Homo sapiens: one gene and its partners. The protein of the gene in region 2 purifies or fractionates together with the protein of the main gene of each other region. This does not show direct contact. Each region holds a gene or a part of one and is shown on either strand. Other genes may lie near its edges. The genes, in order: RYK, CEACAM21 and PTPRS.

The links.
Region 1: the proteins of CEACAM21 (region 2) and RYK purify together in Homo sapiens (affinity purification with mass spectrometry; 3 studies listed by BioGRID and IntAct, with this or other methods). This does not show direct contact.
Region 3: the proteins of CEACAM21 (region 2) and PTPRS purify together in Homo sapiens (affinity purification with mass spectrometry; 3 studies listed by BioGRID and IntAct, with this or other methods). This does not show direct contact.

The regions. Positions count from the first base shown.
Region 1 is NC_000003.12:134,156,746-134,160,397, forward strand, and holds the end of RYK (tyrosine-protein kinase RYK isoform 2 precursor), read right to left. Parts: intron 2,629-3,652; coding exon 2,492-2,628; intron 1,520-2,491; coding exon 1,408-1,519; 3' UTR 388-1,407; downstream 1-387. UniProt on the Homo sapiens protein: May be a coreceptor along with FZD8 of Wnt proteins, such as WNT1, WNT3, WNT3A and WNT5A. Involved in neuron differentiation, axon guidance, corpus callosum establishment and neurite outgrowth.
Region 2 is NC_000019.10:41,582,557-41,586,208, reverse strand, and holds part of CEACAM21 (cell adhesion molecule CEACAM21 isoform 1 precursor), read right to left. Parts: intron 1,863-3,652; coding exon 1,766-1,862; intron 767-1,765; coding exon 714-766; intron 370-713; coding exon 338-369; intron 56-337; exon of another isoform or gene 14-55; intron 1-13.
Region 3 is NC_000019.10:5,330,802-5,334,453, reverse strand, and holds part of PTPRS (receptor-type tyrosine-protein phosphatase S isoform 1 precursor), read left to right. Parts: intron 1-3,652. UniProt on the Homo sapiens protein: Cell surface receptor that binds to glycosaminoglycans, including chondroitin sulfate proteoglycans and heparan sulfate proteoglycan.

The DNA of each region.
Region 1 (3,652 bases), on a different chromosome or scaffold from region 2:
TTTTAAAAACAGCAAAAGCCTCCAACTGCTACACATTCTCCCTTATATACCTCTGAAGATGGGAGTAGTGGCAGGTACCTGCAGGCCTAGCTATTTAGAAAGCCCATTCAACTCTGCTTTAGGCCAACTAAAACTGAGCATAAATACATACATATCCCTTACTTGCTGGTTCTGGAGAAATGTTTCAGTGTTTTAATACTTCCTTATAACATTAATTCCAACTTTTTACTAGAACCTGGAGTCTGAGCCAGCTTAACTGTGTTAGGGCTTTGGAACTTGACTGGAACATCATGAAATAAAACACAAATGTCTGGCTGTTGAATGTTCAAAGACTTACCAGACACAATAACCAATCATTCATTATGAAAAATAATTTCAATACTGTCATAATATAAAACAAATCCTTTAATTTTTCAAGTGTTTAAAAAACAATTTTATACTTAAGCCAGCCTTGAAGATAAGCACAAAATTTACCAGTTTACATTTAAAAAACAAACAAAAAACGACAACAACTCAAGCACCCGCTCTGTGCATAGCACTATTCTAGGTGCAATAAAAGGGAATCTTAACCTTAGAAATATGAGTTCACTTTCTGGAATTGTATTATCTCCTTTTCCAGAGAGTAAAAATAAATAAAATCACCATTGTTTACTACAGATCTGCCCCAAACCACATCTGGTTCACAGAAAGGCTAATTTCTGCCAAATTAAAGATGTAATGAACTCAGTTCCTGCTTTCCCAAAAACACGAAAGCAGAATTCCTTTTCACTGAAAAAAATAAACAGTTTTCCATGCAAGGGCAGTTTGCTTCTAATAAGTATTTTTAAAAAAATTTTTTTTTCCTCTAGCTTTTCTTTAAATTTTCTTCCTCTAATATTGCCTTTTCTTGTACAAGGCAGACCAGGTATCTTTTTATGCTGTTTTTCCTTTACTAAGAAAAGTATTGCATCTTGAAGACAAACCATTTCCCAGAGTAGTGATAAAAAATAACACTAAAAAAACTTTAAAGGTGAGTCACTTACATCACCTTGATGAAGTAAAAAAATAAAAAGCAGTTGGCACTAAGATAGCTAATTCCAAATATCTGTGTCTAAACAATTTTAAAAACTGTTTATTTATTTTGTAAGAATGTACCCCTAGTCCAAAGTAAGTATGTTTTAAAAAATTTTGGCCAAAAAATTTACAAAAACCCTTTCAGTTCAACCTAATAAAAGTGATATCTAGAAAATATGCCACATTATTAAGTCTGTCTTAAAAAGTTCAGATTCTAAAGCATTTCTAAGGCACGGTGTTCTGGAAGACAAATGTGCTTCTGTTGGCGTTGTGTTAGATACAAAGCATCCCTGACAGGCTTCAAGTGAGCCCCGACAGGCACCTTCTTCCTGATGGTGTGGGATTGGAGAGGAGTCAGACGTAGGCCCCCAGGGCTGCATGAAACTCTGTTAGGCACTGTACCAGCTGCTGAAACTTGGGCCTCTCCTCTGGATCTAAGGCCCAGCAACAGGCCATCACAGCAAATCTGCAGAGTGACAAAAATGAAAATTTGGGCTAGTAAGGATACAGTATTCATAACTTTTGCTCAGTTTGATGCCAGTTATGTTGCCTGTCTAAAGGTGGGTATGGAGAGGATGATATATTAAAAACGGATCCATTTTACTATCTGTTGGCAGCTCTAGAAAGAAGCTAAAAGAAATTATTTGGATTATGTGTGAATTTCAATTCTTCATGACAACATATCAAAATATTTCAGCAAATACAGAGATTTCATGTAAAAACCTAAAACACAGTAAAAAAAGAATGTGTGTTTTCCTGTAGTTAAATTAAGAAAAGAACTTGGAGGAAGAGAAAGTTTTATCTAAGTTCTATGAACCCTGGATCTAGAGTAAAATCAGTACAAAAGCTGCCACCTTGTCATGGTGCAGAAACCTTCAGGAGGTTCTGGAACTGAGAATATACTCATCTGTACGATCAATCACCCTGCATAGCCTCCTGTTTATCCCATTCTCATTACATGGCAAGATAAGCTATGTGATAGAAGCAGGAAACAGAAAGCAACTATTTGGCTTACTAGTCCAGATCATCTTCCCTGTATTAGCTGATACTAACTGGCAAGGCAAAATGACAACGAGAGAGGTTTTTTATAACTACTATGTCCTTTATAACTACTTTATAACTATAAAAGTCAGATACTCACTTTATATAGAATAACTGACGTAGCATTCAATTTTCTTAGTACGTCCTCTCAGACTAATTTATAGTGCTTAGATTATGCACTATAAAATAAAATGCAAGACGTTCTAATATCAAATGCATGAAAGAGTGAACGAATCTCCCTGACTTTGTGGTTTTTTATAAGAGTCTAATTTAAATCCAAAGAGTCATTATTCTCAAAAGGGAAGGCTCTGTGTGAATATGGAAACCTGCTCTTTTTCCTTTATTCCAATATAGTAAATGGAATAAAACTCATGCCTTCAAGCTCAAAAAAACTCACAATTCATCAGGACAGTTGATTGGCTGGGCTATTCGGTAACCATCTTTCAGGTATGCGGCCATCTCGAAGGGGTCAATGTCCACGTAGGGAGTCTGGCCCAGAGTCATGAGTTCCCACAGCGTCACTCCAAAGGCCCACTAGTAAAGGAGCAGAAGCACAATGAGGGGACATTTAAAACAACAGTCAGGGGGCTAGCGCCCACAGCCAGCTACAGGACAAAAAATAACAGCTCAACTCATGCTTTGGAAAAGCGAAATGTTATTTACAAAAAAATGTCTATCATACACAGTTAGTTTCCCTTGCTAAGATAAAAAAGAGTGCATCCAATATTAGTATTATAAATTCTAAGTAATTAGATCCATTGGAAGTAATAGTTTACTGTTGATTACAAGCTACGTATTATGAATTATGTCCAAGATTCTTCTAATATGAGAATTTGTAACTTTAAATATTATAGCTAGTCTGCATAATTGAGAAGTGGAAAATGAACAGAATTTTAGTTTAATTAAAGGGAAGAGCATCCTAAGTGAAATACGCAAATGAGGGGAAATATAAGAAGTCATGGATTTTTACTGTATTTAAAGTTTTAAATTAAAGGATTAAAAAAACTTCCAACCTTGCTTGAGTAAGCAATCAGGTTTATTTAAAATCAGCAGGTAAACTACAGAAAGGAACAGGAATAGTAAACAGTGGCAACAGTGTCCATTCATGGTCCGTTCGGGGCTCTCCATTTTGGCCAATTCCTGGCTGTACTTGGCTCCTGGAGAGCGTGCAGGGGGCGGGGGGCAGGCAACGTCTCTACACAGAGCTGCTGCCACATGGCTGGGAAGGACTCAGATCCGGTACATCCACTGATCTGCCGCCAAGTGTGAACCCTGAGGTCAGAACAACTGAACTTGGATGAGGAGGGGGATACCTGTGTACTGTAGTATCAGGTTTATGAGTACCTACAAATTCAAATCATTTTGCATCCTTCAATACATTTAATTTCCTCAATAAACCTGTGAGAATCATTGGTAGCTCAATTTTACAGGTGAGAAAACTGAGGCTCAGAGAAATAGCTTGCCCCAAAATACATATTTTAATGAGTAAAAGAGAAAAAAGTGAAAAAAAGAAAAGGAAAAAAGAGAAATACCAAACGCAAGTCAAATACAAGTCTGT
Region 2 (3,652 bases):
GGCCCCCACTCACCTCATAGATGAGAGCAGCTGCCCTGGTGCTGGGTAGGGGAATCTGGGCAGGGGAGAGAGGGGTGTCAGGGGACAGGGAAGGATTCCTGCTGTGTAGGAATTCCAGGGCTCTCCTCAGGTGATGGAGGGTCCCAGGGTGGGGTTAGCACAGGGAGTGGATGATCCTGGCCCTGAACAGAGGCCCAGCTCATGGCCAGGGCAGGTCTAACCTTATCCAAGTCATTCTGGGTAGGGTGGGTTTGTGCTGGGGATTGACAGTCCCCCTGCCCTGAGCCTGCACAGCTGGGGCCCCAGTGGAAATGGGATTGGGAACGGACAGTCTTACCTAGGAGATGGAGCTGTCAGAGGGTCCATGGCCTGGGGACAGAGACAAAAGTGAGCACGAGAGTGTTAGGATAGCTGGGCCCCTCCTGCAAGAGTGTGTGGGGGTCCTCAGTTCTTAGAGAATTGGGGAGAGGGAGCCTTTCTCAGGTTATTTTAGGGGTCAAGTAAGCAAGTGAGGTTGAGGAAGTGACCCATGACCCAGAGCCCGGAGGTTAGGGCTGACCCGGCCAGTTGGGGTTTCCTGTGTGATGTTTTATGGGATCCTCTTTGCAGCCCCAGGGATAGGGTCAGAGGCCCCTGGGTGTAACTGGCAGGAGTGGACAACTTGGGGCTGGCTTAGTAGTTCCCAGCCACACCCAGACTGAAGGGACACTCACCGGGGGTGGAGGCTGGGGGCTGCTGCTCCCTGAAGTCACTCTGATCGCTGGCCCTAGGAAAGGTCAGGGTTATTTGTGAAGGTGCAAGGTTAAAAGTCACAAATTGGAGTTAAAATAGGGGACCAGGAAAGGAGCCTATTTCCAAGAGGGGTATGGAGACCTCCTTTCTTTATGGAGTTCTGTGGTAGGAGGGGCCCAGGTGAGGGGAGTTGAGGAAAGGCCTTACAAAGCCACATCTGTCCTGGCCAGAGGGGAAGGACTCTCAGGCAGATGCTGGGCCAGGAGAACATTGATCCAGTGACACAGGAAAGGGACTGAGGACCCAGGGAAGGAATCAGACCACCAGGGGTTGCCTGAGAGGAAGGGTCAAGGCACCAGGGGGAAAGCAGGGCCAGGCACATGTGCAGGACACTGAGGGGACTGCATGCATCTTGGATTCTCCTGGAACTCAGTGTCCCTGCTGTGACCAGACACTCCACTCAGGGCTGGAGATGCTGAAATGGGACAATGATCTTGTCTTCTGTCTCTGCCCTTTGGCAAGAGACATAAACGACATTCCAGGATATGCCATATTGGGGCCCCGGTTCTCCCTTCTCACAGCTCAGTGTCTGCAGTTACCATGTCAGTCAAAGGGGTGCTGACCCCACCCAGCCCGTCCAGGCTGTTCCAGTCTCCACTATGTGATGATGCCCAGGATCCCCCCTCAGATGCCCTCTCACTGGGTGGATGGATTCAGTGAACAGGGGGAGGTACCAGGTATTGAGCACCGCTCCCCCCTGCTCCAGGCAGCTGTGGCTTTGCTGTGCTAGGAAACTAGGACCATGCTCAGGGGCATGGCCTTAATTGGACTGAATTCACTGAGGACAAAGCTGTTGAGGAAGCAGCCCAGGGTCAGCAGCTGGTGAGGAAGGTGCCATGGAATGAGAGGGAAGGATCCCTGGGGAGTCGGGAGGCTGGGGAGAGCCTGGCACTGAATACAAGACAGGGTCTCCTTCCTTCTCGCCTGGGGTCAGCGTGAAGGATGGGAGCAGAATGGGGAAAAGCTGTGGTACCTGCCAGTTTTTCGGAGGAGCAGGAAACACACAAGTGCAGCCACCAGAAGACTCCCAACCAGGACCCCGATCAGGATGCCTAGAGTGTTGTCATCTGCTGAAAGAAGAAGGCAAAGGGGATGAGGTCCAAATCTGTTCCAGGGGGAACCATGAGGGGCCTTGCAGGGCAGGGGCATGGTCAGGGAGGAAGGAAATGCCATGGAGCCTGAGTGTGGTCTGTTGTGCTGTCCTCATAGCTGGCTCCCTTGCTCTCCGTGGTTGCACCATTTTCTGTGTCTTAGGCTTGAATTACTGGGATGCATCAACTCCTACATTCTCCCACAGGAAGCCTGCACCTCATCCTGCTCCTGTGTTTTTTAGTCCCTCCTTCCTCTCACATCACTCCTCTTCCCCCTGTTTCTTTTTTTCCATCCCATGGCAGTCGTAAAGGGCAGGCCCTTGCTGCCAACTCAATGCTGATGAGCAGGGATGATGTTCATTGACTGTTTTCAGGGGCCTTCCACATGGAAGGCACAGTGGGAATCAATCTACCTGCAGCTTTTCTCACCCTCCCATTGCCTTGAGGGAGAAGGGTATGTGATATTGTGAAATACGTATTTGGTGTTCATCACCATTGATATGGTTAGGCTCTGTATCCCCACCCAAATCTCACCTTGAATTGTAATAATCCCCATGTGTTATGGGAGGGACCTTGTGGGAGGTAATTGAATCATGAGGGTGGGTTTTTTCCATCCTGTTCTTGTGATAGTGAATAAGTCTCAGGAGATCAGATGGTTTCATAAAGGGAAGCTTCCCTACACATGTCCTCTTGCCTGCTGCCATGTAAGACATGCCTTTCACCTTCCATCATGATTGTGAGACCTCTCCAGCCATGTGGAATTGTGAATCAATTAAACCTCTTTCTTCATACATTACCAAGTCTCAGGTATGTCTTCATTAGCAGTGTGAGAATGGACTAATACAGTAAATTGGTACCAGCTAGTGGAGTGCTGCTATAAAGATACCTGAAAATGTGGAAGTGACTTTGGAACTGGGTAACAGGCAGAGGTTGGAACAGTTTGGAGGGCTCAGAAGAAGACACAGGAAAAAAGTTTGAAACTTCCTAGAGACTTGTTGAATGGTTTTGATTAAAACGCTGATAGTGATATGGACAATAAAGTCCAAGCTGAGGTGGTCTCAGACAGAGATGAGGAACTTCTTGGGAACTGGAACAAAGGTGACTCTTGTTATACTCTAGAAAAGAGATTGGTGGTATTTTGCCCCTGCCCTAGAGATCTGCAGAACTTTGAACTTGAGGGAAATGATTTAGGGCAACTGGTGGAAAAAAAATTCTAAGCAGCAAAGTGTTCAAGATGTGACTTGGGTACTGTTAAAAACACTCAGTTTTATGTATTTACAAAGGTATGGTTTGGAATTGGAACTTATGTTTAAAAGGGAAGCAGAGCATAAAAGTTTGGAAAATTTGCAGCCTGATGATGCAATAGAAAAGAAAAATCCATTTTCTGAGGAGAAATTCAAGCCAGCTGCAGAAATGTGCATAAACAATGAAGAGCAAAATGTTAATCCCCAAGACAATGGCAAAAATGTCTCCAGGGCATGTCAGAGACCTTCCTGGAAGCCCCTTCCATCACAGGACTGGAGGCCTAGGAGGAAAAAATGTTTCCTGGGCCAGGCCCAGGGCTCCCCTGCTGTGTGCGGCCTAGAGACTTGGTGCCCTGCATCCCAGCCACTCCAGCCATGGCTAAAGAGGGCCAAGGTACAGCTGGGGCCATGGCTTCAGAGGGTGCAAGCCCCAAACCTTGGCAGCTTCCATGTGGTGTTGAGCCTGCAGGTGCACAGAAGTCAAGGATTGAGGTTTGGGAACCTTCGCCTAGATTTCAGAGGATG
Region 3 (3,652 bases), about 36 Mb from region 2:
GAGTAACAGTGCCCACCTTGAGGGATTGTTAGGAGGAAGAAATGAGTTAACGTGTGTAAGCACAGATTCAGAACGGCACCTAGAATGTAGCTGCCACCTCTATTCTGTTTTTGTTATTATTTTTGACAACATGGGAGCTACACTGATATGTTGAAGGACCTGCCCAAGAGGGGCTCTCCAGTGTCCACCCGCGCCCCGCTACCCCGCCCTCAGCCCCCCGATGGGGTCCAGCACCAGGGAGATGTCAGGATGACTCAGCCACTGCAAACTGGGGCGTTCCCCTTCACTGGCTGCTTAATCAAGGCCGCCCCACTTCTGCGGCAGGACTGGGCGACTGGCGGGAGCTGAACCACAGGGGGCCTGGATGGTGGACAGGGAGGACACGTGGCTGCCTTGGGAGCTCCAGGCACTCCAGGGACTCCACATGTGGCTCCCAACTTCCAGAGCCCCTGGTGGGCCCGAGTGATCACCAAAGGGGGGAGTTTGGGGGGGATTTGGGGGTTTAACAGCAGTCATTTGATGGGCACTCAGGAAAGTGATCGGTTGACAAGCATGGTGTGCGAGCGAGCATGCATGCATTCATTCGAATATTCACCAGTTCATTAATTCATTCATTCCATCAGGATTGCTGGAAACCTGCTGCTAAGGAACTTGGAAGCCAGAATCTAAGCAGCTGTGGGGCTTGGGCTAGTAATAAAGCTGTTCTGTGCCTCAGTTTCCTGATCTGTAAAATGGGTGCTTTGACATTGCCTCTATCATAAGTGGAGACAGATGAACTGGTGTGGGGGGCACCAAGGACAGAGACTGAGAGTGGCACCTGCTGCTTTGTGGCTGGAGGTGAGGGGGGCGGAAACAAGAAGAGAAGAGTTGACTTTAGCTGGGGAAGACCACACAGGACCCCCCACCCCAAGGAGTTCGAATCGCATTGTGTGTGTGTGTGTGTGTGTGTGACAGGACTCACACTGTTGCTCAGGCTGGAGTGCAGTGATGCCATAATGGCTCACTGCAGTGTCTTAACTCCTGGGCTCAAGCAATCCTCCCACCTCAGCCTCCCAAGTAGCTGGGGACTATAGGCATCCACCAGCACGCCCAGCTGACTTTTGTATTATTATTATTATTATTATTATTATTTATTTATTTTTTTTTTGTAGAGATGGGTTTCACCATATTGCTCAGGCTGGTCTCAAACTCCTGGGTTCAAGCTATCTGCCTGCCTTGGCCTCGGAAAATGCTGGGATTCCAGGTGTGAGCCACCACACCTGGCGAATTGGCATTTTTTATTTATTTTTTATTTTATTTTATTTATTTGAGACAGTCTTGCTCTGTCGCCAGGCTGGAGTGCAACGGCGTGATCTCAGCTCACTGCAATCTCCGCCTCCCGGGTTCAAGTGGTTCTCCTGCCTCAGCCTCCCGAGTAGCTGGGATTACAGGCACCCGCCACCACATCTGGCTAATTTCTGTATTTTTGGTAGAGATGGGGTTTTACCCCATTGGCCAGGCTGGTCTCAAACTCCTGACATCAAGTGATCCGCCTGCCTTGGCCTCCCAAAGTGCCGGGATTACAGGCGTGAGCCACCGCGTCTAACAAATTGCATTTTTTAGATGTGCGGTCAGAGTTCTCTGAAAGCCCCCAGAGCTGGGCTGCCAACATCAGGATCAACAGAAAACCTGGAATGTTGGGAATGCTTCTTGGAACATCTGTCAGGCCAAGGCCCAGAGAGGGAGAGCAACTTGCCCAAGACCACACAGCCATGCCTGCCTGCCTGCTGCTGGGCCTTGCGCAGGAGGATGGACAGGGACCCCTTTCACCAGTCCAAAGGGAGAAACCGAGGCAGGAAGCCATGGCGGGTGTGTGATTCTCAAGCCATAACGCCTGTCAGGGCTGGAGTCTCCACTCCAGCGGGTCGTATGGGCCAAAAAGGCTTCTTCAACCTCCAAGGAAGCCCTGAATGGCTCCAGGGCCAGATCTGTTGGTTTTTCCAAGGAAAAGCAGAAATCTAGATTTTAAGTAAAATTGCCCAATTTTGGCTGGGCATGATGGCTCACGCCTGTAATCCCAGCACTTTGGGAGACCAAGGCAGGCAGATCACCTAAGGTCAGAAGTTTGAGACCAGCCTGGCCAACATGGTGAAACCCCGCCTCTACTAAAAATACAAAAATAATCTGGGCATGGTGGTGCATACCTGTAATCGCAGCTACTTGGGAGGCTGAGACAGGAGAATCGCTTGAACCTGGGAGGCGGAGGTTGCAGTGAGCTGAGATCATGCCACTTGCACTCCAGCCTGGGCGATAGAGTGAGACTCTGTCTAAAAAAAAAAAAAAATTGCCCTATTTTAACATCCTTGGGTTGAAACATCTTAACATGGCACAGTACAGAAATCCAGGGCCACCGTGGACTTTGACCCCTTCCCCAACAATTAAAAGTTGCGTGACTTCTGACACCTCCATTGCCGTCCGCGGGCCTCAGTTTCCAGGCCTGTGAAATGGGTTTAAGACTCCCAGCCACCTCTGCGGTTCTTTAGAGGCACCAGTGTGATAGCTTACAGAGAGTGCTGAGAACAGGGCCTGGGCCAGCGTCCGCGCTCGATAAACGTTGGCTCTGATTATATTAATATTGGTCATAATGATAAACTTGACTTAAATTAAATACTGCGTAGAAGGAAGCCGGCTGTCCCGCGGGGCAGGGCTGCGAATTATCTACTGGCGGCAGGACCTGCTTCTCCATCCCTCGTTCTTTCTGTAGCGCAGTCGTTTGCTCTTGGGGCTGGAGCACCCGGGTTACCAGTATTACTCGTTGAGTGTACTGCTGTGGTTCTCAGCCGGGGTCACTTTTGCTCCCCTGGGCACACTTGGCAACGTCTGGGGACATTTTTGGGTGTCATGTCCAGGGGGGTGCTGCTGGTATGGAGTAGGTGGAAGCCAGAGATGCTGCTCAACTCTGTGTAATGGCCAGGATGACCCCATCCCAGATAATGACCCCACCCTCATGTACACTGTGCTGAGGTTTAGAAACCCTGATTTTGCCAGGCATGGTGGCTCACGTCCATAATCCCAACACTTTGGGAGGTTAAAGCGGGAGGATTGCTTGAGCCTAGGAGTTCAAGATCAGACTGGGCAACACAGTGAGACCTCATCTCTACAAAAAACAAAAAAAAATCAGCCGAGGGTTGGGGTGCACACGTACGGTCCCAGCTACTGGGGAGGCTGAGGTGGGAGGATTGCTTGAGCCTAAGAGTTTGAGGCTGCAGTGAGCTATGATTGCATCACTCCACTCCAGCCTGGGCAACAGAGCAAGGCCTTCTCTTTTTTTTTTTTTTTTTTTTTTAAAAAAAGAAGCCCTGACTTATGCTGAAGACCCAAGACAGCGAGAGAAATCAGGCAGATGGTGCCTTTGTCCCTGAGCGTCCACCCAACACGCTCCCTGACGTCTCGCGGGGCCAGAACGCTTAGATTGCTAATGGGTTCCCTCTGCACATCTGTCCTGGTTCCACTGCCCCATTGATTATTGGAAGTGGGTAATTGCCCCTGTCGGATGAATTCTAGAGAGTGTGAACTGCCGGGGTTTCCGGCAACAGTGCTGGCTTCAACTCCCAGATATCAGCAGGGTGCAGAGAGGCTGCCAGGTCCCAGGACTTTTTCTCTTGGCCCCATC